4 linked regions of the Homo sapiens genome follow. The protein of the gene in region 2 purifies or fractionates together with the protein of the main gene of each other region. This does not show direct contact. Each region holds a gene or a part of one and is shown on either strand. Other genes may lie near its edges.

Evidence for each region.
Region 1: the proteins of TFR2 (region 2) and GALNT12 purify together in Homo sapiens (affinity purification with mass spectrometry; one large-scale study listed by BioGRID and IntAct). This does not show direct contact.
Region 3: the proteins of TFR2 (region 2) and GLG1 purify together in Homo sapiens (affinity purification with mass spectrometry; one large-scale study listed by BioGRID and IntAct). This does not show direct contact.
Region 4: the proteins of TFR2 (region 2) and TAF5L purify together in Homo sapiens (affinity purification with mass spectrometry; one large-scale study listed by BioGRID and IntAct). This does not show direct contact.

Annotation. Positions count from the first base shown.
Region 1 is NC_000009.12:98,830,361-98,837,641, reverse strand, and holds part of GALNT12 (polypeptide N-acetylgalactosaminyltransferase 12), read right to left. Parts: intron 5,903-7,281; exon of another isoform or gene 5,894-5,902; coding exon of another isoform or gene 5,871-5,893; coding exon 5,685-5,870; intron 2,394-5,684; coding exon 2,276-2,393; intron 671-2,275; coding exon 494-670; intron 1-493. UniProt on the Homo sapiens protein: Catalyzes the initial reaction in O-linked oligosaccharide biosynthesis, the transfer of an N-acetyl-D-galactosamine residue to a serine or threonine residue on the protein receptor.
Region 2 is NC_000007.14:100,637,340-100,645,303, forward strand, and holds the start of TFR2 (transferrin receptor protein 2), read right to left. Parts: upstream 4,214-7,964; 5' UTR 4,171-4,213; coding exon 4,138-4,170; intron 3,890-4,137; coding exon 3,637-3,889; intron 3,534-3,636; coding exon 3,347-3,533; intron 1-3,346. Other genes in the region: ACTL6B (actin-like protein 6B), read right to left, coding at 5,907-5,987. UniProt on the Homo sapiens protein: Mediates cellular uptake of transferrin-bound iron in a non-iron dependent manner. May be involved in iron metabolism, hepatocyte function and erythrocyte differentiation.
Region 3 is NC_000016.10:74,493,640-74,500,920, forward strand, and holds part of GLG1 (Golgi apparatus protein 1 isoform 3 precursor), read right to left. Parts: intron 3,006-7,281; coding exon 2,802-3,005; intron 1,193-2,801; coding exon 1,121-1,192; intron 1-1,120. UniProt on the Homo sapiens protein: Binds fibroblast growth factor and E-selectin (cell-adhesion lectin on endothelial cells mediating the binding of neutrophils).
Region 4 is NC_000001.11:229,611,268-229,618,548, forward strand, and holds part of TAF5L (TAF5-like RNA polymerase II p300/CBP-associated factor-associated factor 65 kDa subunit 5L), read right to left. Parts: intron 3,219-7,281; 5' UTR 3,216-3,218; coding exon 3,074-3,215; intron 1-3,073. UniProt on the Homo sapiens protein: Functions as a component of the PCAF complex. The PCAF complex is capable of efficiently acetylating histones in a nucleosomal context. The PCAF complex could be considered as the human version of the yeast SAGA complex.

The sequences.
Region 1 (7,281 bases), on a different chromosome or scaffold from region 2:
GAAGTGCTACCTAGTGTTCCTAAATGCAAGAAGGTTGTGATGAAGAGAAAATAACACGTGCTAGGTAAGCTTCATTCTGGCATGAGTTACCGTGCTGTTAGCCATGAGTGCAATGTTAATGATGCAACGATATATGTTAAACAGGTGTCTTTGAACAGAAACACATAGAAAACAAGGTTCTGTATTGATCTGCTGACAAAACTGTGCCCCAAGTCTGGCAGGAACCTAACCCTGTATTTCCCCTAAGAACAATGGCTCTGTTTTCATGAATTCAGCATTTGTGGTGGCTTTATGCACTATAACAGCTGTAAATAAGAAGATTTGACTGCATATAATTATTATAAATGGAGGAATAAATTCTCCCCTTACTCGTATCTGAGCACCCAATTTATTCTCTATTTCTGGAACCAGATCGACTATGTTGGGGAAGCCACGATTAGCTGCTGTTGTTCAGATGAAGCCAGATGGAGTGCAGGTGGGCCGAGGAACTCACCAAGCGGGCACGGGGGTTGCGATGGTAGTAGAGCTCTTTAAATTCATCCATCCATACTTCAGCTGCACGAACACTGTTGGCCAGAGCCTTGTTGCGGGAGTAGGGAGCTTGCTTGGGGAAAACATGGCCAACATGGGAACATGGGTGTGTTTCCAGAACCCCACCACACTGCCAGATCTGCACACAGAGAAAAGGAGAGGCCAGGTGGTGAGCAGGGGATGAGCTGCGGGTCCATAGTATCTGCAGCAAAGAGGCCAGGCACACGCAAGGCATGATGGACACTGCCAAGATGCTCAGCCTCCATCGGGCAGGAGGCCACCTACCCGGCACACTCATGACACAGAATGTGGGTAAAGAGCAAGAAAGCAGCCCCCAAAACATATAAGCTGTGGGAACCAAGACCCCAAAGTCCATGCACTAAAGCTCATGCACTTGACTCACAGGAGCATCCACAGAGACCTCGCTGGCAACCCACTTACTCATTACAGAAAACACAGGCTTGATTACCTGATCTCCTAGCCACAGAAGATAGGAAAGCAGCAAGGAAGAAAAGAGGTTTGGAAGGGGGAAAGGAAGAGCGTCTAGAAACAGGTAGAGCAGCCTGACACCTAAGGAAGAGGCAGAGAGACCATTAAAAGCACACCCAAAGACTCAACAGGCGAAGGCATCTGAGCCCATCTCACACTGGGACTGACAGCCTTGAATATCTCATTTTCCCAAAGATGGGACAACCAAGCACAGCATCTGGTACTTATTACAGAGGGCGTGAGTCCTCGGTAGAAGGCCAAATTCTTGTTTATTCAGTTTTTATGAGGGCAGAACACCATATAAAATATTATTAAAAATCTTAATTTTCCACTGAAAAGCACCAACATTTACACAAAGTTTTGATGCTTAAAATGTAAGACTTCATTAACTGGAAAATCTACTGAAATGCTAGGAGTTTTCCAATACGGTTTTCACGGGCCATGTAGAGTAGCATCAGTAGGAAGGCTTGTTACAAAAAGCAGAATCTTGGTCCCACCCTAAAGCTATCAAATCTAGCTAGAATTCTAGATTGTGCTTGTGAATCTGTCTTTCTAACAAGTTTACCCAGCAATTCTTACATGTGTTGGCTGGGTGCAGTGGCTCACACCTATAATCCCAGCACTTTGGGAGGCCAAGGCGGGTGGATCACCTGAGGTCAGGAGTTTGAGATCAGCCTGGATGACATGGTGAAACCTCGTCTATACTAAAAATACAAAAATTAGCCGGGCATGATGGCACATGCCCATAATCCCAGCTACTCGGGAGGCTGAGGCAGAAGAATCACTTCAACACAGGAGGCGGAGGTTGCAGTGAGCTGAGATCGTGCCACTGCGCTCCAGCCTGGGCGACAGAGCGAGACTCCGTCTCAAAAAAAAAAAAAAGAAATTCTTACATCTGTCAAAGTTTGAAAGGCACTGTGCTAAATAAAGAGGCCACTTCATAAGGAATTAATCAAGTAAAGGCTCCAGAAGACAGGATCAGGAGGAACCTAACCCTGAGCAAGTCACCTCTCTCCTGGTTTCATTTCCTCCTCTCCATAGAGTGAGAGAGAACTATGTGACTCGCAAGGCCCTTGCTGGCCCCAAATCTAGAAAAAGTACACTTTTTAAAAAGCTAAAACAAGAAAGCAAGCATGTTTATAGGATATGCGTGTCATCATCTTTCAGGGTCCACCAGGCTCTTACAGCAAATCCCATCGTTCCCAAAGAGAGAATCAGTTAAGAACATGTCCAAAGAGAAGACTGAAATACTTACCCTAAAGGAAAATTCGAGGTTTTCTCCTCCCCAAACTTCCATTCCTGTATCATAAGACCCCAGATATTCAAAATATTTCTTACTCACAGCAAACAGCCCACCAGCCATTGTTGGAGACCTAAAAAAGTATGATATCCTTATTTCACTGTAGACAGCAGAAAACCATCACAGTTATCCAACTACCTTCCCACCACGAGCCCTTTCATCTGTTCATCTGTCATCTCTAAGCATATCCCGCCTTCACCTCTGTGCCCCACACTAGGCTGGGCCTGGAGGCATAGATGTACCCTACGGTCCCTGCCTTGAGGTGGCTCCCAGGCTTCTCAGCAGGTAAGTACTATGTGTGTGCTAAATATGTTAACTAAGGTCAGCCAGGGCCCTGGGAGAACACTGAGGAGGGCAGGGGCAAAAGGGCAGGACTAGGTTCCCTGGAGGAAGCAAGGTCTGCAGGACAAAGGACAGTTAGCCAAGAAGAAGAAGGGAAATGGAATGGTTCTCCAGCATGAGCAAAGGCTTAAGGGTGGGAGAAATCCAGGGACATTTAGAAGCATAGAGAGCAAGGAGAAGAGAGAAGCAAGAGACCACGTTCCGAGAAGAAGGCAGGCTCCAGGCCATGGTCATCTGAGGAGGTGTGATCTCACAAGGCAGGCACTCACAGATGCCACTCAGAGGCCAGTATGCAGAAGGCCCTAAAGGCAACTCTGGCATCTGAAAGTGCCCCGAGGGCCAGGTCCTCTTGAGTGGTTTCCTCCACTAGGACCCAGCTAGCCAGCCTCAGGCTGCTTTTTCAGCCAGCCTTGTTTCCCGCCACCCACCACCAGGTTTATCTGGAAGCCAGCACTAACCAGAAACGGCCCACGGCTTCCAGCCTACACGGCAGAACACTGTAAGGTCAGCACGTCCCAGAGTTGCACAGGCAAAAGGATGAATTCAGAAATAGGGAAAGGGCTGGGCACGGTGGCTCATACCTGTAATCCCAGCACTTTGGGAGGCTGAGGCGGGCAGATCTCCTGAGGTCAGGAGTTCAAGACCAGCCTGGTTAATATGGCGAAAACCTGTCTCTACTAAAAAAATGCAAAAATTAGCTGGGTGTGGTGGCCCACAGCTATAATCCCAGCTACTCAGGAGGCTGAGGCAGGAGAATCACTTGAATCCAGGAGGCAGAGGTTGCAGAGAGCTGAGATCATGCCACTGCACTCCAGCCTGGGTGACAAAGCGAGACCCCAACTTGAAAAAAAAAATAGGGAAAGAGAACATTGAGAGCGCAACCACTGAAAATGTTAACATCCTGCAGCATCGGGGCCTGCCCTGGACTCCAAGCATGGGGCCAACTGAGAAGACAACAGCAACATCCCCAGTGGAAGGGAAGGTTCTAGACTACAAAGCACCTTCACGTGTGTTTATCCTAAAAATCTAGGAAATAAGCAGGGTGGATATGCTGGTACCTATTATACAGATGAGATAACTGAGGCACAGGGATATTATGGGATGGGGAGGATAGGTGCCCTGAGCATGTGGGGTAACGGGGCAATTAGAATTCATGGACCCCCATGAATTCATGACAGGCTGCCTAAGTAGCCTAGATTAGAGCCTCCTGCTCTGTGTCTCAGTTTCCAAACCTATTCAGTGAGGGATTGAGCAGGATGTTCTCACTAAGGGCTCCTACAGAAGCCTGGGTGCCATTCTTAATTCCTTCCTTCCCCAATTCCCACTCAATTTCTTCCAATTCTTCCATCTTAACATCTCTGGAATCCACAGTGCCCACCATCTCCTGAACCATTGTTTCTGACCTGGAAGACTGCAGAGCCTCCTAATGGTATCCCTGCCTACAACGGTCCCCCCAGGGCCCTCACCACATGGCACGCAGCACATGCTCAGGTCACTTCCTGCTCCGATCCCTTCAGTGGCTTCTACCTGCTCAGGGTCAAGTCCAAACCCCTTCCCTTGGCCCCGCCCATCTCTCCAGCCTTATCTCTGGACACTCTCCTTGCTTGCTCCACTCCTGCCAGCAGCGGGTCATCTTAAGGTCAGGACTCTGGTGAAAGAATTCAGAAGCCCAACTGCCAAATGTGGACGCAAAACTCAGAGCCTACTTCCGGTTCAACACACCAGCGGTGAGGCTGAAGTCCTGACCTCCTCCTGCCCAACTCCCACATCTGTCTCCCACTTGCTTCTGAACTTGGAAGGGGAGGAAGAAGCCAGGCTATCACTTCAAAACCTCCAGAATGAGAGCTGCTGAGCCTCCCTTGGGCCCATTCTACTCAGAGCTTGACTCACCCACTGGCCAGAGCAGACTCCTCCACCTGCCATGGATCCACCCACACCCCAGGTCAAAGGGGCCTAAAGATGTTTCCTCAAGAATGAGCATATGACCAGCAATCCCACTCCTAGGTGTATACCCAAAAGAATGGAAAACAGGGACTCAAGCAGATAAAAGTACACCGATGTTCATAGCAGCATTATTTAACAATAACCAAAGGACAACCCAAGTGTCCACCAACAGAAGAATGGATAAACAAAATGTAGCATATATGTACAAAGGAATATTACTCAGCCATCACAAGGAATGATGTTCTCTAGGAAACTTGAAAACATGATGATAAGTCAAAGAAGCCAAGTACAAAAGGACAAATATTGTATGATTCCACTCACATGGGGCGCCTGAAAGAACAGAGGTTCCCAGGGGCTGGGAAGGGGAGAATGGGAAGTTATTGCTTAGTGGGGATATTTTCTGTGTGGGATGATGAAAAATTCCTGGAAATAGGTAAAGATCATGTTTGCACAATACCGTGAATGTGCTCGATGCCACTAAAATTGCATGCTTTGTTTTATTTATTTATTTTTTTATAGAGACAGGGTGTCACTCTATCGCCCGGCTGCAGTACAATTGCGTGATCATAGCTCACTAAAGCCTTGAACTCCTTGACTCAAGCGATCCTCCTATCTCAGCCTTCCAGCTAGCTAGGCCTACAGATACACACTAGCATGCTCAGCTAATTTTTATTTTTTTGTAGAGATAGGTTCTTGCTATGTTGCCCAGGCTGGTCTCAAACTCCTGGACTCAAGCAATCCTCCCACCTTGGCTTCCCAAAGTACTGGGATTATAGGCATGAGCCACCATGCTCAGCCTAAAATTGCATACTTCAAAATGGTTAAAATGGTAAATTCTCTATGATGTATATTTTACCACAATTTAAAAATTAAATAAATAAAATATACCGATATAAAATTGACATGTGTAGCAGACACGTTTAATAAAAATAAACAAATACTCTGGGCAAAAAAGTGGGAAGAGGGGAGGTAGTTAAGCTGACAGCTAACCATTCCTCCCGAGGGCCTCCGCTCACAGGTCAGCCAGATTCAATGAGGCATGCTTAAAAAACAAGTCACCCAGAAGTCAGCTCCTGACCTGATGACATCGACGGGGGATTGCATCCGTATCCTCTCCCTCTCAGGAACTGTGTGCCACGTGAACACCAGCCTCCAGTCGAAACCGCCGATCTGGGGCTCCCCGGAGTTCCCCAGGTATTCGAAGGTGTTCCAGTCGATCACATCAATCACCGGGCACACCACTGCCGACTCCTCTTCATGGATCCTGAAAGCACCCAAGACATCCATCCGTCTCTCCTATGCAGACGGGCAGCAGGAAGACAATTGGGAAATTCAAGGGTGAATTCTTGTCTTCCTTCCAATAAGAGGGAGGAACATCTGAGAAAGACCTGCTTCTCTTATTCCAGGTGTCTGCAGCCGTGTCAGAGCCCTGGCAGGTGACCACCATGGGGGAGATCTGGGGGCCACGGAGGGCTTTAAAACAAAAAGTCCCATGACTTTAATATGCTCTGATTCTATCCATGGACATTCTGACCAAACGCTCTATGATTTCAATTTCTCAGAAGTGCAAGAGGTTTAATCACAATGAAACACCTTAACATCAAGAAATACTTATCTCCTAAGAACAAAGGTGCACCCAGACCAAAGGGTCAGCTTTGGAATTAGAATATAAATTCTAATCCTGCTATTTATTTGTTGTGTGACATTAGCCAAGTCACCTAACTTCAGAGCCTATTGCCTCAGTGGTAACACTGGAATTATAATATCCATTCAGAGGGTTAATGTGAGGACTTCCTGGGAAAATGTTTTTAAGATAGCTGGCAGAGAACCTGAAACTATTGCTATTTTTTTATTTTAATGTTTGTTATTGTGAAATATTACATATAGTGAAAAATGCTATAATTTCCTTTTGCAGGTATCAGCCTGTGTGTTGGCTTCAACGGTTCTCTCCACATTATTACAAATCTGGCCATCCCTCAGCATGCTTCCAGGCCGTGTTTCTTTGCATTTGCCACTACACCAGGAAAGATGGACTGAGACTAGACCACGTGTGAACACTAGATTTCCTTGAGTACATTTTGGGGGACGTTGTCTGGAATTTGAGACCTAAAAATCCTAAGAGTCCTGCCACACAGGACAGTGCAACAGAGATCAACCAGACTTGAGCTTTCGGTGTCCTTAGAATGACACCAGAAAGTCAGAGGGGATATTAGAAATACCACTCTGGGGTAAGAATTACAACTATCGGGAAATTGCACTGTTCAGAACAGGTTGCGTGAGACAGGGTCTTAGATCTGTGAGTTCCCCAAATTGAGGAAGTTGCATACTAGGTATCCACCAACATCCGCTTATTTAAAGCAATTGAGGGCATTATTTAAAAGGTTGAAAGGGCCAACATCAGACCTGCTGGGCAAGTTCTAGCTGGCCCCTGGCAAAGGCCAGCTCCCCCAGGAACTGATGGCTTGTGATCAAGCTGGCTGGAACCACAGAAAGCCTAATTTTTACAAGGAGGGGAAAACTAGGGGAATGCTGTACCAGCATTGGAGTATAGGACTCCCAGTCGTGGCTGGAGAATGTGCAGGACCCACAGGGATGCTATTGGCATCTGGGCCAGAACCATTCTCCACTGAACAGGGCTGATCTGCAGGATACTTGGCCTCCCTGATACACAAAAT
Region 2 (7,964 bases):
AGTGAGCCAAGATCGTGCCATTGCTCTCCAGCCTGGGCAACAAGAGTGAAACTCTGTCTCACAAAAAAAAAGAAAAAAACAAAAAACAAACAAAAAAATCATAAATTAGCTGGGCATGGTGGCTCACGCCTGTAGTCCCAGCTACTTGGGAAGCTGAGGCACAAAAATCACCTGAAGCCGGGAGGCGGAGGTTACAGTGAGCTAAGATCATGCCACTGTACTCCAGCTTGGGCAACAGAGTGAGAATTGGTTGCAAATATATAAAAATAAATAAATCCTGTCCCTAAATAATAATAATAATTTTGAAAAAAGAAAAATGAAAAATTAGCTGGGCGTGGTGGCCCCTCCCTGTAGACCCAGCTACTCAGGAGGCTGAGATGGGAGAATCACCTGAGCTTGGGAAATCGAGGCTGCAGTGAGCCCAGATTGCACCACTGCATTCTAGCCTAGGTGACAGAGCAAGGCCCTGTCTCAAAAAAAAATTAATGTAATTTAATTTTTTTTTTTTTGAGATGGAGTTTCACTCTTGTTGCCCAGGCTGGAGTGCAATGGCACGACGTTGACTCACCGCAACCTCCGCCTCCTGGGTTTAAGCGATTCTCCTGCTTCAGCCTCCCGAGTAGCTGGGATTACAGGCATGCGCCACTACGCCCGGCTAATTTTGTATTTGTTTTGTTTTTTTGAGACAGAGTCTTGCTCTGTCGCCCAGGCTGGAGTGCAGTGGCGCGATCTCGGTTCACTGCAAGCTCCGCCTCCCGGGTTCATGCCATTCTCCTGCCTCAGCCTCCCAAGTAGCTGGGACTATAGGTGCCCGCCACCACGCCCAGCTAATTTTTTGTGTTTTTAGTAGAAACGGGGTTTCACCATGTTAGCCAGGATAGTCTCGATCTCCTGACCTCATGATCTGCCCACCTCGGCCTCCCAAAGTGCTGGGATTACAGGTGTGAGCCACCATGCCTGACCTGTAATTTAATTTAAAAGCCCTGAGCAGGCTGGGTGCGGTACCTCATTCCTATAATCCCAGCATTTTGGGAGGCTGAGGTGGGAGGATTGTTTGAGGCCAGTAGTTTGAGACCATCCTGGGCAACATAGGGAGACCTCGTTTCTACTAAAAAAAATTAAAAATTAGGCTGGGCATGGTGGCTCATGCCTGTAATCCCTGCACTTTGGGAGGCCGTGGTGGGTGGATCATCTGAGGTCAGGAGTTTGAGACCAGTCTGCCCAACATGGTGAAACCCCGTCTCTACTAAAAATACAAAAAATTGGTTGGGTGTGGTGGCAGGCACCTGTGATCCCAGCTACTCGGGAGGCTAAGGCAGGAGAATTGCTTGAACCTGGGAGGTGGAGGTTGCCATGAGCCGAGATCGCACCACTGCACTCCAGCCTGGGCAACAGTGAAACTCTGTCTCAAAAAAAGTAAAAAAAAAAAAAATAGCCGGGCATAGTGGCACACATCTGTAGTCCTAGCTACTTGAAAGGCTAAGGTGGGAGGATCACTTGGGTCCAGGAGTTGGAGGCTGCAGTGAGCTATCATCTCGGCACTGTCTGGGTGACAGTGAGGCCCTATCTCAAAAAAATAAAGCCCTGAACATTGTTGATTCCACAGACTCAAGGTCTTTCAGCAGGTGAATCCAGCAACATATCAAAAGAGTAATCATACACCTTGATCAAGGTTAGCGTTGAGCTCAGGAAGATAAGGAAATCTATTAACACAAATTACTATATAAACATTAAAGAAGAGGCTGGGTGCTGTGGCTCATGCCTGTAATCCCAGCACTTTGGGAAGCCGAAGCGCTTTGGCAGATCGCTTGAGCTTACGAGTTGGAGACCAACCTGGGCAACATGGCAAAACCCTGTCTCTACTAAAAAATACAAAAATTAATCAAGCGTGATGGCACACACCTGTAATCCCAGCTACTCAGGAGGCTGAGGCATGAGAATCGCGTGAACCTGGGAGGCGGAGGCTGCAGTGAGCCAAGATTGCACCACTGCACTCCAGCCTGGGTGATAAGAGGGAGACTCCGTCTCAAAAAATCAATCAATCAATAAAAGTCTCAGTGAGCTAGGAGTGAAAGGAAACTTCCTTAATTCAATTTTAAAAAGCTGTCTGGAGCACAGCAAAGTTCATTGTCAATGGCAAAGTATTATAAAAGCATTGCTATTAAAGTCAGGAAATAGGCAAGGATACCTACTGCCACGGTTACCTTAAATTCATGTCCTCTCAAATGCAATGAGAAATGAAAAAAAAAAAAACGTAGAAGGTATAAGCATTGGAAAAGAGAATCTCCATCTCCTACTATCTGTAGCTTAGCTGATTACCTACTTAGAAAACCCAGGCGAATCCACTGAAAAATTACTCCCGTCCCAAAAGAGGGCTATGGGTGGACCTAGCTTTTGGATCTGCACCCACAAATGCATTTGCTTACTTGTTTTTCTTTTTTTCTTTTCTTTTTTTTTTTTTTTGAGATGGAGTCTCGCTCTGTTGCCCAGGCTGAAGTGCAGTGGCGTGATCTCGGCTCAATGCATGCTCCACCTCCTGGGTTCAAGCCATTCTCCTGCCTCAGCCTCCCGAATAGCTGGGACTAGAGGCGCCCGCCACCATGCCCGGCTAATATTTTGTGTTTTTAGTACAGACGGGGTTTCACCGTGTTAGCCAAGATGGTCTCGATATCCTGACCTAGTGATCTGCCCGCCTCCGCCTCCCAAAGTGCTGGGATTACAGGCCTGAGCCACCGCACCCTGCCGTTATTTTGTTTTTGAAACAGGGTCTCGCTCTGTCTCCCAGGCTGGAGTGCAGTGGCATAATCTCGGCTCACTGCAACCTCCGCCTCCCCGGCTCAGGCAATCCTCCCCCGTCAAGCTCCCAAGTAACTGGGACTACAGGCACTCGCCATCATCCCCAGCTAATTTTTGTGTTTTCTTTGGTAGAGACGGGGTTTCATCGTATTGCCCAGGCTTGCTTGCTTGGTTTTCTGATTCCCTAGAATGCGGCTTCTCAGAACCCCTCAGCGCTCCCTGCTCCAAATCTAGGCGCCTGGGTGAGGCATTCAAGGCTTTTCTGGGTCTGTCCAGTCTGATACTGGATGCTGCACCCCTCTGATCTCAGACAGTCAGCTCCCTCACCTCCCAAATATGCCACCCTCAGAGCCTCAGTCCCCTGGAACCTCAGCTCCGAATGCCTGCCATCCTTCCCAGGACCGCTGAACAGGGGGGCCAGGAAGGCAGATGGGAGGACTCAGGAGGGGGACCCAGACACCAGAGGCCTGGGCCAGGAGGCAGGGAGGCCCAGTCTGAGCGGATGAGGGGAGGGACACTCGAGAACAGGATGGGGCAGGGCCATCCCTACCTGATGGTGTCCTCCAGGCGCCCCTCCCCCAGGAACTGCAGGAACATGGCCTGGAGGTCGCTCCAGTAGAGTCTGCCCTGGTGGAAATCCAGGTCAGGCTCATAGTTGACATCCTCACTGACCACCAACACAGAGTCTCCGCACGCCTGGCAGGACCCTCGGAAGGCGACGTAGCCCAGTAGGAAGGCTGGCGGGTGGCAAGATGGGGATTCTCTTTATGCCCACCTCTGGACCCCAGAAATCTCCCCCAGCCCAAGCCCTTCACTTCTGGGGAGGGGGACGGCTCTCACCCCCAGTGAAGATCAGCAGGGCCGTCAGGACCAGGTAGGGGGCAGCCCTCCGTCCTGCTGCCGCCCAGGGAATGAGGTTTGGCTGCCTGGGTCTAGAGCCCAGGGGCTCAGGGCCCCTCAGCTCCATGGGGCAGAAGTGGGCCAATGTCTCCGCCCCCTCCTCCCCGTCTTCCTCTTCCTCCTCCAGGTGCCCTTTCCGGGGGCCTTCCACACGCTGGTAGACGGTCTGAGAGGATCTTGGGGACAGTTGTTGCTGTGCAGGCGAGGTGGGCATGAGATTGGGGCAAGAGGCCTGGGGGGTGGGGAGGCATCTGGCAATAATGAGGTCAGTGACTTGGGGGTGTCAAATGAGCATGGTGGTGGGGGCGTGGGGGAGGGGCAGGGGTGGGAAGAAGCGAGGTCAGGACACGGTCCAGGAGGGGCCAGCCTCAGGGGCTTGGGAGGGGGCTGAGGGACTTAGAGAGAAGGCCTAAGGGGTCTTCCCAATCCCACTAGTCTTACCGCTCTCTGGAATAGACCCCAAAGCCGCTCCATGCTTGTGTCCCCTCCTGAAGCCTGCAGGCTGTCCCCCAGCGATAAACCGATAAACCGTTTGTGGGAGCCCTAGGAGGGCCCCTTATCAGTCCTGGCAGGCAGCCTGAACCAAGGCTGCTCCTCACCACCCCCAAGGGTGGGGGCACAGTCCTGGCCTCAGTCCAGCCTTCCAGACGTGGCCCCCGGGTCCAGGCCAGAGCACAAGGGGCTGTGCTCTCCCCTGCCAATCTCTCCACAGCCCCACGCCTGCCTCCTCCCTGCAAAACAATCAATTTTTTGACCTTGGGGCGGACTTTGGCCTCCTAGTTCCCATCAGGGGTGGGGGAAGGGGGCCGATAGTGGGGGAGGGCAGAGACATGGGTGCCCCCTCCCCTCTCCTGCTTTTACCCCTCCCTGGATCCTGGGGACCCCTTCCTAAGCCCCGCCATGCCCAGGTGGAAGATTCACCCCTAAGACATCTGCCCCTTCCTCATCTGGCCTTCAGAGTCCCCCAGTGCCCCGGTCCTGTGACATATCAGCTGTCCTCCCTGTCCTGACACTTGCCCCAGTGGCATTCTAAGCTGGAGGCACCACAGTGGTGTGACTTGGGGGTCTGGTCTGGTGGTGTGCATGTGTGTCTCTTTTGAAAGGTCGTTCTCAGACTCCTGCTGGCTGCTGGAGAAGGAGGGGCACAGGTGGGAGCACATGGTCAGATGAGACCAGCGAGAGCTCCCAGATAGGGGTCCTGGGGTCAGGGATATGTGGGTCAGTGGGGAGGAGTGATCAGAGTCCCCGCCAAGGTGTGGGCAGAGCTGGGTGACCCTGGACAAGTCATGGTCCTCCCTGGGCACCGGCCCGTTTGGTCACCGAAGGACTTGGATCACATGGGTTTCTACCTCTTTGGGTTCTGAGGCTGATGAAAGGCCAGTTAGCCTCACCCCAGAAACATGTCACAGGCATAAACTGCTAAACAGGCAGGGGGCGCAGGTCCCCAAACCCTTCCGAGGGCCCCAAGACAAGTAGCTCTGAAGAGGAGGGCTCAGGGTCCCACCAAGTTTCCCTTTCGGGTTTCCCCTGGGAAACATCAGCTCCTACTCAGGTCCAGAGAAGTTCCGAGCTGCTGGGATGCACCAGCGCCCTAGTCCCCGCCCCATGTCTGTCACCACCAAGAGCCCCAGGAAGGAAGGCATAGCGCATCTCACCTGAGCGCAGGTCCTGGGGTGCTCAGGCGTGCTGCTCCCCTGAGACCTAAGGCCTACGCTGAGGCCCCGCCCACCAGGCCCCACCTCCTGTTCCGCCCATCCAGGCTTCACCTCCTGCTCCACCCACCTCCTGCCACACTCACCCCAGGCCGTGCCCCTCCACTGCACCCTGCAGCCCCTCCCACCTCCCACCACAACTGTTAGCCCCCAGCAACTCCCCCAACCCCCGGTCCTCGTCATGTGGCCCTCCCTGGGTCACAACCCCTAGGAAACCTGAGGAATCCATGGCCCCTGGGGCTGTGTCCCAGCACCCACTGTGGGATCGGCATGGGTGTAGAAGTGAGACTCCCTCCCCTCACCTCCCTCCAGACCCCTGTGCCCACTCCCCACCCCACGGAGGCCAAACTTTTTTTTCTTAAAACATTTTTACTTCTTTCAACCCAGAAACATCACCATTAATGAGGACAAGAGGGAAAGGAGGAGGGGGGCAATGTGGCATGGGGGTTAAGGGACTTCCATCTGAGCTTGGGAGCAGGTGTGTGGGGAGGAGTGCCATCAGGGGCACTTTCGCTCCACGCACTGCTTCCCGCCCTCCTCATATTCCTGCTTGGAGATCCACATCTGCTGGAAAGTGCCCTGGGTGGAGGGGGTAATATCAGGGTCAGGGTGGCCTTGGAGGGAGGTGTGGACAGGCAGGTGCAGCCCCTGGGAATCCTCCAACAGGCCCCAACCACCCCTTGGGTTCACATCCCTCTGAAGCCCCTCCCCACCTCATCCTCCCCTCCTCGGTCTGTCCCCTTTCATATTCAGAGGGAGAGTATCCTCTTCATATCATTCAATCAATAATTCATTCATTCAACAAGTATTATTGAACAGCAGTCTCTGCCCTGAGCTAGGCCCTGTTCCTGAGCTGGGGGGATGGCACGCACAGCCCCAGGCCAGGCAACCTGCACCTGGCACTCAACACCCCCTACACACACACAGTCCTTCCCCACCAGGTGTCCTCTTCTCACTCCATCAGGGCTTTGGAACACCGCCAGTCTCCCTCTTTCCCAAGGAAGATATTCCCTCCACCTCACCATTCCAACACTGTGGCACCCCATCTGCAGCCTTCGGCATTACAACTTGCCCCTTGAGGGTTCCTGCAATGAGCATCTCAGAGTGTCCCTTCTCTCTATTTTTTTAAAATTTTAATTTTAATTATTTTTATTTTTATTTTATTTTTTTGAGATGGAGTCTTGCTCTGTCGCCCAGGCTGGAATGCAGTGGTGCGATCTTGGCTCACTGCAGCCTCCGCCTCCCAGGTTCCAGCGATTCTCCTGCTTCAGCCTGCTGGGTAGCTGGGATTACAGGCGCGTGCCAACACGCCCGGCTAATTTTTGTATTTTTAGTAGAGACAGGGTTTCGCCATGTTGGCCAAGCTGGTCTCAAACTCCTGACCTCAGATGATCCGCCCGCCTCGGCCTCCCAAAGTGCTGGGATTACAAGCGTGAGCCACCGCGCCCAGCCTAATTTTTATTTTTTGTAGAGATGGTGTCTCACTATGTTGCCCAGCCTGGTCTCAAACTCCTGGGCTCAAGTAATCGTTCCACCTCAGCCTCCCATAATGTTGGGATTACAGGCGTGAGCTACCACGGCTGGGCTTCTTTGATCTTTCTCAGCCTACACACATGTGCTGTCCAATGCAGTGGCCACTAGCTTCCTGTAGCTCACCAGCCCTGGTCCAAATTGAGACGTGCTCTAAGTGGAAAATACACACCCAATTTTTTTGGGTTTTTTTTGAGACAGGATCTTGCTCTGTCACCCAGGTTGGAATGCAGTGGCACAGCTCACTGCAGCCTCAACCTTCCAGGTTCCAGTGATCCTCCAACCTTGGCCTCCCAAGTAGGTGGGACTACAGGTATGCGCCACATTGCCAGTTGCTTTTTAAATTTTTTGTAGAGATGAGGTCTCGCTTTGTTGCCCAGGCTGGTCTAGAAATTTTGGGCTCAAATGATCCTCCCGCCTTGGCCTCTCAAAGTGCTGGGATTACAGGTGTGAGCCACTCCACTTGTCCAGGATATATTATTAATACTTAATTTCAGGCCGGGCATGGTGGCTCACACCTGTAATCCCAGCACTTTGGGAGGCCAAGATGGGCAGATCACTTGAGGTCAGGAGTTTGAGACAAGCTTAGCCAACACGGTGAAACCCCATCTCTATTAACAATCCAAAAATTAGCCAGGCGTGGTGGCTCACGCATGTAATCCCAGCTACTCGGGAGGCTGAGGCAGAAGAATCGCTTGAACCCAGGAGATGGAGGTTGCAGTGAGCCAAGATTGCTCCACTGCACTCCAGCCTGGGCGACAGTGAGACTGTCTCGAAAACAAAAACAAAAACAAAAAAAGGAAAAAAACAAGAACTGTGTGGCTGACATGCTTCAGCCCTGAGCTAAGTTCAGACTGCCAGCCTCTGTCTTTCTGACCCTGGTTTCTGTCTCCCTGGGGGACTTCCTTTCTCGTGGATGTCCTCCTTGTCTGTCATGGCCCCACTGTCCCCTCTGTGTGACTGATACCCTCCAGATGCGGGTTGCAACTCCAGCTCCCTGCTCAGTACCTTCCTTCGAACCCAGCA
Region 3 (7,281 bases), on a different chromosome or scaffold from region 2:
GCTACACAGGAAAGTAAATGACAAGATAGCAAAATTAATTATTTCAAAAGCCATCAACTATTCTTGCATTCATTCAGGGACAAAGAACTAAAAGAGGATGCTTAATGATATAGCTGCTGAAAAATTAAATAGCTAATTGCCTAGAAAGCACATTGATTTGGTTAACCTAAACTTCTTGAGGAGGCAGGGCTGGCCTTAGTGTGGTTTTATATAAAATTCTCTGATTTTACTCCCCAAACAAAGTAATATCTGAGAATTTTATATAAAATCACACTGAGGATTTTATATAAAACCACAGTGAGAGGCGGGTGGATCACCTGAGGTCAGGAGTTTGAGAGCAGCTTGGCCAACATGGTGAAACCCCGTCTCTACTAAAAATACAAAAATTAGCTGGGCGTGTTGTCAGGTGCCTGTAGTCATAGCTACTAGGGAGGCTGAGGCAGGAGACTTGCTTGAACCCGGCAGGCAGAGGCTACAGTGAGCCGAATCATGCCACTGCACCCCAGCCTGGGTGACAGAGAAAGACTCCACTCAAAAAAAAACAAAAACAAAACAAAACAAAAACACCTAAAAAAACCACCACAGTGAGAACCCTACTTGGCTTCTCACTATCTAGATATCACAATCAGGGTTTCATTTTCTTGGTTTCAGCCAAATATGCTTAAAACCCAAGTACCTCACCTCTGAAAGCGGTGAGCTTTATCAGTCATTTACGTTTCGGTATAAGATTATAAGAAATATTGTTTCAGAGAAATTGAGAAAGCTTTTTTTTTTTTTTTTTTTTTGAGACAGAGTCTCACTCTGTCACCCAGGCTGGAGTGCAGTGGTGCGATCTCAGCTCACTGCAACCTCCACCTCCTGGGTTCAAGTGATTTTCCTGCTTCAGCCTCCCGAGTAGCTGGGATTACAGGCGCCCACCACCACGGCCGACTAATTTTTGTATTTTTAGTAGAGACGGCGTTTCACCATCTTGGCCAGGCTGGTCTTGAACTCCTGACCTCGTGATCCACCTGCCTCAGCCTCCCAAAGTGCTGGGATTACAGGCGTGAGCCACCGTGTCTGGCTGAGAAAGCTTTTAAAAAACAAATAAAACATTCATTAGTTTCAAAATAATACTTACCTTTTCACTCATGGATTCTTCAAATTTATGGTTAAAGAGGCACTTATACACTCTGCCCTCACCAGCTTGTGTCTATAAGATGGAACATACACATTATTATTACTTTAGCTAAATAGTTATGCTGAACATTATCCACAATCTCATATAGAGCTTTCTATTAAACGATTATAATCGTACATACCTTTGGACAAACAGCGCTTCCATTTATAAAATTTAATAGGCTTTTAACAAAAACAGTGACTGCAGTAAAGACGAAAAAAATATTCCCATGATATTTGGAGTTTGTCATTTGTTCTCAGATGTATTTTGTTAATTAGGGAACCAAGAGAAGTGTTAGAGTCTGAGTCTTTTTTTTTTTTTTTTTTTTTGAGATAGAGTCAGTCTTGCTCTGTTGCCCAGGCTGGAGTGCAGTGGCACAATCTTAGCTCGGTGCAACCTCTGCCTCCTGGGTTCAAGCAATTCTCCTGCCTCAGAGCCCCAAGTAGCTGGGATTACAGGCCCCCGCCACCCTGCCCAACTAATTTTTTTATTTTTAGTAGAGATGGGGTTTCACCATATTGGTCAGGCTGGTCTCGAACTCCTGACCTCAAGTGATCTGCCTGCCTCGGCCTCCCAAAGTGCTGGGATTACAGGCGTGAGCCGCCGCACCCAGCCTCTGAGTCTTCTTTCTTACAAGTGTATGCTAGAGTTAACGAAACTCTTACATCAGTGGCTCTGATGGTTAAAGCTGTTAATGCAAACCAGCAGGCAGAGTGGAAGTGTACACAAGTTACTTTCAGTACTTTGTTGTAAGGATGGAGAGACCATTCTATTTAAAGACTTAGAAGGCTGTTCTGTAGAGTCAGCAGGTGGTAATCAAGGATTTGGTTTTAAAGATTAGCCACCTGCTGTTTTCTTCACCTTAGCCAAAAACACATAAATATATAATGCGTCAAAGTTTTAGCCATTGAATAGATGTAAATAAGATCCTGGGTAAAATAAAATTCCTATAGATAAAACAGACTTCCAAGAACTGAAATTGAGAAGTGAGATAAAGCAGAAAAAATACTAAGTGGAGATCATTAGAAGCCAGCTGTTAACCAAATGTTCAGTCATCAAGGTTGAGCATCCAGTTACCACTTTCTGCTATACTGGGACCAATTTCTTCTTCCATTTCTGTGGCTTTTCTACATGTGAGGTTTCTTGATGGCTTATTTTACGTTAGAATAGAGTATTAAAAAATATTTAAGTCACAGTGGCTCGTGCCTATAATCCTAGTACTTTCAGAGACAGAGGGAGGAGATCACCTCAGGCCAGGGGTTCAAGACCAGTCCGGGCAATACAGCAATGCCCCATCTCTACAAAAAATTTTTAAAAAAATTGGCCAGGCAAGATGGTGCTTGCCTATGGTTTTAGCTACTTGGGAGGCTGAGGCAGAAGAATCGCTTGAACCCAGAAGTTGGAGGCTGCAGTGAGCCATGATCACACCACTGCACTCCAGCCTGGGCACCACAGCAAGATCCTGTCTCAAAAATTGGGGAGGCTGAGCTGGAGCACTGCTTCAGGTCAGAAGTTCGTGACCAGCCTGGGCAACATAGCAAGACTCAATCTCTCAAAAAACAACACAATTAAATTAATTAAAACAAAATTATATATGTGTAAAAATAAAAGGAAGAAAAGAACAGTTTCTGAGCTGACTCACATTTTCACAAAAACGCTCCCGATCATCTCGGCAAGCAAAATATAAATGCCGGTCTAAGTGAAAGTCATCCGATGACAGCTCAGCCACCCGGAGAATGGCTTTCTTGCAGAGTTCAGAAACTTGAATCTTGGGTTCTCTTTCTTCTGCTTCTTTCACCAGGCCTTTCTCCAAGCATGATACCACCTCACCTTGTGAATGTGCATCCTAAAATAGCGAGGATATTAATATTTTAAAACTTTTATCACATGGGTTTCAAATAAACAACATTTGGCTACACACACACACACACACACACACACACACACACAAAGTAATAAAACCCCATCATAGAGTTGACTTATTAACGTTCTACCAAGAAATCAAGTAAGAACCAACCACATTGTGGAAGTTAAAGAAAATGCTCTCAATAATCTTCAGTTAGAATATAATACTTGCATGCTACAAATGGAAACAGAGATCCTGGAAAGTTTAAGTATTATAGTTTAGTTAGCACTAGAAATAAGAACCTGAATTTTTAAAAATTTAAAATGTCAAAAATTCATAAGAAACACAACAGGGCCAGGCATGGTGGCTCATGTCTGTAATTTCAGCACTTTGGAAGGCCGAGGCAGGTGGATCACCTGAGGTCAGGAGTTCGAGACCAGCCTGGCCAACATGGTGAAGGCCCATCTGTACTAAAAATACTAAAAATACAAAAAATTAGCCAGGCATGGTGGTGTGCGCCTGTAATCCCAGCTACTCAGGAGGCTGAGGCAGGAGAATCACTTGAACCCAGTAGGCGGAGGTTGCAGTGAGCCGAGATCGTGCCACTGCACTCCAGCCTGGGCGACAAGACAGAAACTCTGTAAAAAAAACACACACACACACACACACACAAAAAACCACATCGGCTCAAAGTTCTGGTCATAGTTCATGTCAAGACTGAAATTACACTGCTGAAATCTCTGTTCATTTGTCTCTAAAAACCAGGCATTTCCCAAATAACAGTGCTTGCTTTTTTTTTTTTTTTTTTTTTGAGACGGAGTCTCGCTCTTTCGCCCAGGCTGGACTGCAGTGGCGCTATCTCGGCTCACTGCACGCTCCCACTCCCGGGTTCACTCTATTCTCCTGCCTCAGTCTCCTGAGTAGCTGGGACCACAGGCGCCCGCCACCACGCCCGGCTAATTTTTTGTGTTTTTAATAGAGACGGGGTTTCACCGTGTTAGCCAGGATGGTCTCGATCTCCTGACCTCGTGATCCGCCCGCCTCGGCCTCCCAAAGTGCTGGGATTACTGGCGTGAGCCACTGCGCCCGGCCAACAGTGCTTTCAGTCAAGTTAAAAACCAACAAACCACATAATCCACTAAGAAGTTAGAGACTTTCTTGCTCCTTTCCCTACTCTGTGGTGTCCACAAACATCCCAATATGTAGAATCTGTTGTTTAATACTCACGTTGATGTTCTGGATTTATCTTAATGGGATTTAACAAGATTACCACTGTTTACACAAAACGCTTCTGAGAGTTTTCTTAAAAACCATCCAATTATCTTTAATTGTACACTTCATCATCCCCATAGCAACCACAAACATTCATTCATGCAAAATATGAGATAGTTCCCCTAAATATTTTCTATTCAAGAGTCCTAATCTATACTTACAAGATATGTTTCAACAATTTAAGGTATAACCACTAATATAGCAAACCAAAGCATCTTAAAATATAGTGCTATTAGCCCGGCACGATGGCTCATGCCTGTAATCCTAGCACTTTGGGAGGCCAAGGTGGGCGGATCACGAGGTCAAGAGTTCAAGACCAGTCTGGCCAACACAGTGAAACCCTGTCTCTACTAAAAATACAAAATATCAGCTGGATGTGGTGGTGTGCACCTGTAATCCCAGCTATTCGGGAAGCTGAGGAAGGAGAATCGCTTGAACCCAGGAGGTAGAGGTTGCAGGGAGCCGAGATTGCACCACTGCACTCCAGACTGGGAGGTGCAGTGCAAGGCTCTGTCTCAAAAAAAAAAAAAAGTATATATATATATATATATTATATTTTATATATATATTTTATATATAGTGCTATCATTTATACACACGCAATTAAAATCTTGTTATAATAAAATACCTATCTATGAAATAATCTGCATATAATAAAAAGATTCTGGCCAGGCGTGGTGGCTCATGCCTGTAATCCCAGCACTTTGGGAGGCCGAGGCGGGTGGATCATCTGAGGTCAGGAGTTCGAGACCAGCCTGGCCAACATGGTGAAACCCTGTCTCTACTAAAAATTCAAAAATTAGGTGGGTGTGGTGACACGTACCTATAACCCCAGCTACTCAGGAAGCTGAGGCGAGAGAATTGCTTGAATCTGGGAGGCGGAGGTTGCAGTGAGCTGAGTTAGTGCCACTGCACTCCAGCATAGACAACAAGAGTGAACTCCGTCTCAGGCAAAAAAAAAAAAAAAAAAAAAGATTCCTAAAACCAAGTAGCGTAACATCTACTTCAGACAAAATTTCAAATCAACCAAAGAATGTATTTTTTTCTATTTTAATTAAAGGATTTGTCTATAGCACCTTAATTTCCAAGTGTTTCCATGAAAGCTTTCGTGTTATCTCCTAACACACATATGAAGAAAGGACACAGCTCTGATATCTACTGCGGACATGAATGAACAGAGGCTCAGAGGAGTTAACTAACTCATTTGAGTTGTAGAACATGAAGTGTCTAGCTAACAGTCCATTATTTATTTATGGGGTTAATCTGGGTGAGTGGGTGGAGTCTATAAAACTCCTAAAACTTGTTTGTTGTTGTTGTTTAACTTTCATTTTTATTTATTTAAGAGACAGGGTCTTGCTCTGTTGCCCAGGCTGGAGTGCAGTGGAGGGATCACAGCTCACTGCAGTCCCAAGCTCCTGGGCTCAAGTGATTCTCCTGACTCAGCCTCCCAAGCAGCTGGGACTAGAAGCACACACCACCACCCTCAGCTATGGAACACTGTGTTTTTTACTGTACCTTTCCTATGTTTATATGTACTTATATACACAAATACTATACTTGTGTTATAAATGTCTCCAGTATTTCAGCATAGCCACATGCTGTACAGGTTTGTAGCCTAGGAGCAATAGGCTATACTACATAGCCTAGGTGTGTAGTAGGCTATACTCTATGATACTCACACAGTGATCAACTTGCCTAACAACACATTTCTCAGAACGTGTCCTGGTATTCTCATTGTATCCTCATCGATAAGCAACGTGTGACTAAATGTAACTACACTGGCATTAGGTCATAACAACACTTCTGGCTGGGCACGGTGGCTCACGCCTGTAATCCCAGCGCTTTGGGAGGCCGAGGCAGGTGGATCACAAGGTCAGGAGATAGAGACCATCCTGGCTAACACTGTGAAACCCCGTCTCTACTAAAAATACAAAAAATTAGCCGGGCATGGTGGCAGGCACCTGTAGTCCCAGCCACTCAGGAGGCTGAGGCAGGAGAATGGCATGAACCTGGGAGGCGGAACTTGCAGTGAGCCGAGATTGTGCCACTGCACTCCAGCCTGGGCGACAGAGTGAGACTCCGTCTCAACAACAACACCAAAATAAAAAAAAACAATACTTCTCTACTAGATGTTTCCATTCATTGTAACTTTCAGATAAATATTTTTTTCAAATAAGGGTATTTCAGGAGTTCCTCGGAGTCTCTGAGCTTTTAGTGCATTGGAGTTTATAACTGAAAGGCATATAAATATTTGACAGCGAAGACTGCATGGTTAGTTACCAAACATTAATTAAAGTGAGGTGAACTACACACCTGCACATTATGAGAAAATAAGCTCATTTAGGTTTAAAAAGTTATTAATACACAGGCTTGGCATATGAGTAATAAATTATCCTATAAATGAACTTACAATAATTTTTTGTTAACTTTATTATGGTAGAAAAACATCTGCTTAAAATCTACTGCCATTGCCTTGATCCGTTTTTAGAAGTTTGATAGGCAGTATTTTTCTTCCCCATATTCCGTGTCCTTTAACAACAACGGCCCCCACAAAAAAAAACAAAAAAAAAAACCAACAACAGATGCTAACACTAATCTCTAAATAGTAGGCGAGAACTCAGTTTTTATCTCTGCTATAAACCATTCTCTATTTCAATCCTTCTGCTGTCTTCTGTAATCTACCTCACTAGATAAAGGAAAAAGGAATATTAGAATTACTCAAATTAACTGGTTAAAAGCAGGAAATAATAAATGAAATAATAAATAATAAATGATACAGCTACCGAGAGAAAAGCATAAAAGTACTAATACTGTGGCACATGTCCGCAATTAAGTTCCTTTGTTGGCAGCCACAGTCTTTTTCTTCAGATGATGTAAATCATTTATATCTTTACTTTTGGAAATCTGCCCTTTCATTTTGACAACATTTATTATTATATAAAATTCTAAAGCCTTTATTAATGTATCTTCTTTGTTCTAAAATTTATATTAACATTTGAAAAAA
Region 4 (7,281 bases), on a different chromosome or scaffold from region 2:
TTTATGCTTTCTAAAAACAAAAAACAAAAACCATTCTCCTCCTGTTTACAAGAGGAGTGGGGAACACCGGGGAAAGAAGGTGGCTAAAAACCAAGGGAAGCCACCTTTAACCGCGTCCTGAATGAAACATGAATGCATTTTGTCAATGGAATATGGATGGAGAAATGGTGATGAATGTGGCAGGACTGAGGGCGCCATAACAGGAAATACGTAGAAAGGGAAACACAGGTGAGAGGAAAGCCAACCTACTCCAGGAGAAGGAAGAGACAGTCAGAAGAGAGGACCTGCTGCAAGCCTGCATGCAAGGGAGGGACTCCTCCTCCTTCTTCTTGCCCCCCGCTTAGTTACTCTGTCACTAAGTCCTACAGATTCCTAAAATATATCCTCTCCTCTCCACTCCCATTACCACTTCCTCAACTGAGGCTGTCCTCACTTCTCACTGGACTGCGTCTTTTAACTAGTTTCCTCGATTCTAATCTGGGCTGCCTTATCAATACTGCCACCAGACTGAGTTTTCTAAAATTCACATTTGAAAACCTGGATACCCTCCTCCAATTTGTTCCCTGGTAAACATCTAATGGTTCCTTTGCAACTCAGCTCACTCTTTCAACTATTTAGTGACCCCCAACTATATGTCAGGAATCACAAGGCCTTTTGGGGATCCTTCCTTGGCTTGCCAGCCTAATTTGGATGATCTTTTCTGCTACCACTGAACCTCCCCCTCACAGAACTTACTACCTCATGCTCTTCTACAATCACTGACTTACCTGCCTCACTTCCCAATTAGAACACTTAGCTTCTCAGAGCTAGGGTCAAATCGTAGCTATCTCTAGAACTTTTCAGCACTTGGCCTATAGCAGATGTTCACTAAATGTCTGCTGAAAAAAGAATTCTTCAGATTACTCAATTAATGGAAAAATCTAGGACAAAATCTTCTGATAATCATATTTCATGTTTCTCACTTTTCCTGGTGGTTTTCCAGCAATAACACTTTCTCCTAATAAGCTATTCTATTGAAACTAAGACAACTTAGACGAGCAAAGTTCTGGAAGTCTGTTTAATATTGTTCATTCCTACTTTCTATCAACAACAGCAAGAATTACTGCTCTCTGGTTCCAAAGGATGCAGGGCAGCAGATTTTTTAAATGGCTAGGATGGCATGTTCAGAAGGAATTACTCTACAATGGGACAGAGGCCTTGTAAATGGACTCCCCTATTCAAACAATAAGGCACTTAGTATTCTATACCAAGGCCATCATCTGGCCCTGTTTTGGTCAAGGGTATCTCTGAGGAGTTTGAAGGCAAGGAATAATGGGTGGATCCAACCCTGAAATACGTGATGGCAGGCTGCTGACTGGGCTTCTGTTAGTGTTTCAGAGGAAGTCAGGAACCACTCCTTTGAGAGCATCCTCAGGTTGTTACTGTCCTAGCACTCTCTTCCTATGGCAATGAACCCTGGGTCCTTGACTTTGAAGGTATATGAAAAGAGGGAGCTGAGGTAACTGCGGCTACTAGGATGGAGGATGAAACCATTAAGAAATGGAGCACGTGGTGAAAGATATTTGGAAGATCACAGAAAGCCCAGGAACAAAGAAGAGAGAAGAATGTAGCCTGAGCATATAAGAAAGGGAACCAGGGCTGAGCTGCAGAAATCACTGCTAACTCCACCTCCACACACAGCCATTGAAGTAGTTTATAATCACCCTAAAGTATCCCAGCAATTTTTTTCCCCCAGAATCACTAGTAAATAAGTTCAGTAAAAGAAAGTCCTGTTACACAGTGGCTCACACCTGTAATCCCAGCACTTTGGGAGGCCAAGGTGGGAGGATCACTTGAGGCCAGGAGGTCATGACTAGCCTGGACAACATGGTAAGACCCCACCTCTAACAAGAATAACAAGCAAAAAAAAAAAAAAATTAGCCAGGTGGTTGTGCATGACTGTGGTCCAAGCTACTTGGTAGGCTGAGATGGAGGATCACTTGAGCCTGGGAAGTTGAGGCTGCAGTGAGCTGTGACTGCATCACTGCATTCCAGTCTGGGTGATGGAGAGAGACTCTGTCTCAAAAAAAAAAAAAAAAAAAGAAGAAAGAAGAAGAAGAAGAAGAAAGTCATAAAGTCATATTACATAAAAACATGAACTCACAAAATAGCTAACAATTACAGTCGGCCCTCTGTATCTGTGGGTTTCACATTCATGGATTCAAACAACTGCAAGTCAAAAATATTTGGGGAAAAAAACCACCAAAGTCCCAAGAAGCAAATTTTGAATTTACCAGGTGCTGAATACTATGATGAATCCATGTGAATGAGGTGATATGTAGGCTGTATTAGGAATTATAAGTAATCTAAAGACAATTTAAAGAATACAGGAGGATGTCTGTAGATGTAACCTGCTATGCCAAATATTATACCACATCTTATCAGGCAGGAACTTGAGTATCCGTGGATTTTGGTATTCATGGAGGGGTCCTGGAACCAATCCTTTATGGATACTGAGGGATGACTATACTTATTAATCCAGATGGAGTCAACTCAAGTTTTTCTAAAATAGAATCGGATTTCAAAACATTAAAAAACAAAAACAAATTAAAAAAACTTCAGGAATGTGTCTATAATAATAATAATATTTCCAACTACAGATCCTGAAGTACCAATTTATTCAACAAACCTGACTTCTACATGTGAGGCTCCATGCTGGAGGAGAGGGGACCTGTGCAAGAAGGGGACAGAGGGAGACCCTGTCCCTAAGGGTCTTGTAGGTTAATTGTTTACAGAAGGAAAAAGTTGCACGTACTTTCAGGTACAGATAAAGTAACTGAGAAGTCCTGAGGAAGGAAATGACTTTAGCCAGGGGAATCACAGAGGTTATCAGAAGTGACAATGTGAGCACCGCTCTAAATGACAGACAGGGTCTCTGAGGCCAACATCATTCACTTAACGTAGCTCACTGAGGTTTTTGGTCAGTCTGCTCTCTCTGGCACTGTCTTGAGAAGAGGAGAAGTAATTCCACATGGATATTGACGTGAGTTCTCCTGCTCCAGGCTCACCCCACCAGACGAGCCCCCACCATTACCTGTTAGATTGGCCGCCATCTCTTCAGCAGTCTGTGACAGCCGCAGTCCTTGCTTCAGGGGACCATCTGAGTCCACGTACTGCCGGCGTTTGAGGTAGCAGGACACTGCCATCTGAATCTGCTCGGTACGCACTCGTTTCATGACCTTCAAGGGAGGCAACGACAGGATACAGAGACATCAGGGGCCTGGGAGAGCAACCTATCTAACTGCACCATCGCAGATGGGTAGGACACATGGGAGAGAAAGACCAGCCATGTGGCTAAGTGGCCTAGTTAAGACGCAAATCTAAGTTCCCTAATACCAACGTGGTATACTCTTCCATTTTGTCTGTTTCTCCAATGACAATACAGCCAACTTCAATTACAGAAAATAGGAAAAGCATCGATAATAAAGTCCTTAGATCACCCCCAAACTCTGTTTAATACCAAGATTCCAATCAGCCCCATGAAACTTTTCATTAGAGAAGCTAACAAAGAGCAAACAGGGCCAGTCTGAAATTTAGGGCCTTTGATTTCTCCTGCCTACTCTGTGAGAGAGGCGTTAATTAGCAGTGAACTAGCCAAAAAAGCAGGCAGGAGGCAGTGCCAAATCAAAGACCACAGAAACTGGATAAATAGATGTTAACAAAGCATGAAGTTAACAATGGTGAAGGGGATTGTGATATTTTTGCTTAATAGCCAGGAAAAGACTGCCAGCTCTAAGTTAGGGATTTGCAAAATGTGTTTTCATTTTATTTTATTTCATTTTATTTATTTATTTATTTTGAGACAGAGTCTCGCTCTGTCGCCCAGGCTGGAGTGCATTGGTGCGATCTCAGCTCACTGCAAGCTCTGCCTCCTGGGTTCACGCCATTCTCCTGTCTCAGCCTCCCAAGTAGCTGGGACTACAGGCACCCACCACCACGCCCAGCTAATTTTTTGTATTTTTAGTAGAGACGGGGTTTCACCGTGTTAGCCAGGATGGTCTCAATCTCCTGACATTGTGATCTGCCCGGCTTGGCCTCTCAAAGTGCTGGGATTACAGGCGTGAGCCACCGCGCCTGGCCGTGTTTTCATTTTAATTGTATAATATTATTTACCTTTTTTGCTCTTTATTTAAACCACAGGTATAGAAAGGCAGCACAACACTAAGAGGGTATGTATATGTGTTAGCATATGTCTCATAAATTCCTGTAAGAAAGGAAAGTGGTAGGAAGTGACCTGAACAGAAGTAAATTATTTTTGAATAATTCAAGCTAATTTGTAGGTTCACAAAAATAAAAAGAAAAGGGAAAAAGAAAAAAAAAAAAGAGGCACTGTTTCCTTTGACTATTGAGTTTATTATCAACAATGACAGGAACCCCTAGTATTGCCATGGCCTCAAACACTACTTTGCCAGAAATAAATACTGCAGTCCAGATGACCAATGACAGCTGGATGAATTTTGGGGTTCACTTCTGTCATGTAAAACATACTTTCCCCTCCAGGACCAAAATATTGTGTCCATTTTGGAATGCATTTCATGTACGCATACACACACAATCATCCCAACCAAAGTAACATTCTCTAAATCAAGGTTTCCCAGTTGTTTTGTGTGGGAGATCTGTTTTTGATCATTTATTTGGATGTGTTTTAAGTTCTCAGTTTCAGTTACATGCATTAGTATTTTCCTTTGAGAGTTCTACCATTCTTTCATTTTGTTTTATTTTTTTTGAGACAGTGTCTTGCTCTGTCACCCAGACTGGAGTGCAATGGCATGATCTCAGCTCACTGCAGCCTCCACCTCCTGGGTTCAAGTGATTCCCTGCCTTAGACTCCCGAGTAGCTGGGATTACAGGCCCACGCTACCACACTTGGCTAATTATTAAATTTTTAGTAGAGATGGGGTTTCACCATGTTGGCCAGGCTGGTCTCGAACTCCTGACCTCAAGTGACTTGCCTGCCTTGGCCTCTCAAAGTGCTGGGATTACAGGTGCGAACCACCGTGCCTGCTCTTCCATTCTTTTTTAAGATGTAAAATTCCACCTTTTCCGGAAGTCTATTTATTTATTTATATTTTTTTTTTTAGTAGAGAAGGGGTTTTGCTATGTTGTCCAGGGTGGTCTCAAACTCCTGGGCTTAAGCAATTCTCCTTCCTTAGTCTCCCAAATTGTTGGGATTACAGGCATGAGCTACCATGCCTGGTCTTATTTTTCTTTAAACATAAAAAAATTATTTGTATCTAATTTTCGTCCATCTGCAGTTTCTTTTAGTGTATGTGTGGTGAATAACCAAACAAATGTTTTGCCCAGTGACTGTAGCTAACACACTGTCCCAATACCATTTGCAAGTAATTATTTCCTTCTAAACTGATTTGTGGGAGCCCTTTAAAAATATACTCTGAAGACCTACTTTTCAATTCCCTACAAGTCATACAACAGAGCAAACTGTGAAGGCTAGAGACATACTCACAAGTATATATACATGTAAATATAAAATGTTAGGACATTATATATATATTAAACTATATGCCCAGAAAGATTACATTATCTGTGCATTTTATTTCTAGGTTGCCAAAGAGTTCAAAATATTTGTTACAAAGAAGGGGTACTAGGTGTGTGATTGTTAAAAAGAAGGAACACTATGGTTGTGAATCAGTGACATAATGAAACACAATAATAAATTTCCAAATACTGAACTCTCTTCTCACTATGAAATTTACCTTGCTTGGGTATGGTGTATTATTCTCTCACTGTATTGATGACTTAGGTTACTTTTTAATTAAGCTGTTTTTTTAAATTGCTAATACAGGGATTCTGATACTCTGAGAGTGGGGTCCCTGCTCCCATTCTCTGTGGCCACTGATCAGCACTGCTCTATCAGTGATCCTCCAACCTGGCTATACATAAGAATCCCATGAGTGTGTGGATATGTATATAAATAATTTCAGCCCTGCAGATTCTGGTTGTGTTATATTTAGAGTAAAAAAGTTAAATGCACACGGAGGCTGTGACAGTACTGTCCTTTCCCGTGTGGCCCAAAGTCAAGACGAGTCAATCCAACCAGTGCCTCTTCCTATCACTTGCTACAGCTGCTTTTCATCTAACTTCAAGATCTCCTACTCTGCGGGCTTTCCCAAAGCAGCCCAATTCCCTACTCTAGCTGAGACTGAAATCTTTCCGGCTTCCACACTGCCGATCTTTTGCTGACTTGGGAATGCATGCAAATATTGATGCACATCCGTGAGCATTCCAGGCAGATGGGCCTCGATCTCTTAGATCACCTCTGACAGGAAAAAACTCTGCATGTGAAAGACATGTGAATGACTGATCTGGAGAACAGGCTCTGCAATGACACAGTGTCCTCAAGGTGCGACAATATACCTATGTGTCTGAGGAGGAAGGGAAAAGATGTGAAGTTAGGAAAGAGTAAACAGAACGGAGTAAGAATGAATGATAGTCAACACTGACCATATTTAAGATTGCTAGAAACTAGTCTGTAATACTGATTCTAACAAATATGCTTAAATTAGCTGCCCCAAATAGCAATTTCTCTGAGTCCAAACTACCATTTATGATAAGGGCGCTTCCCTGAGGGTGGGTGGTGAATCAACTGTATGGCCATGGATCTTAAGGGCAGGAATTCTGGCAATGACTCTCTTGCATAACCACGCTAAACTCAAATACTAGAGACACGACCCAATCAACTCAGCTGGGTTTTATTCCAATGTACATATATTTCAAGTGACATGGATAATTAATGAACCTGAGATAAATCGGTCCCCTCCACCCAGACTGATTTCCAGAGTACTAATATCCAAAAAGGGACAAGTGAAGAAAAAAAACTCTCCTTAAACTAGACCTAAGTCTCTGGAGAGACTCATACATGAGACGAACAGTGCAGTTTCGTTACCTGCCTAGCTTTTCCTATAATTATAAAATCTTTCAAACTGAAATTGGATTTAAATATAATTATACTCTTTGTTAACATTTCAGAATTTCTCATCATTTTCAATTTATATAAAATACTTAACTTTCAGAGGTAAAAACAGATGTCAAATACTCTGCTCTTCATATCACATTATTGATATTTCTGGAAATCAAAAATTTCTGGAGGATTTTGACACAATGTATATCTATTCTCATGTATCAACAGTTGCCAGATTGGTATTTCTGGAAATCAAAAATTTCTGGAGGATTTTGACACAATGTATATCTATTCTCATGTATCAACAGTTGCCAGATACTTCA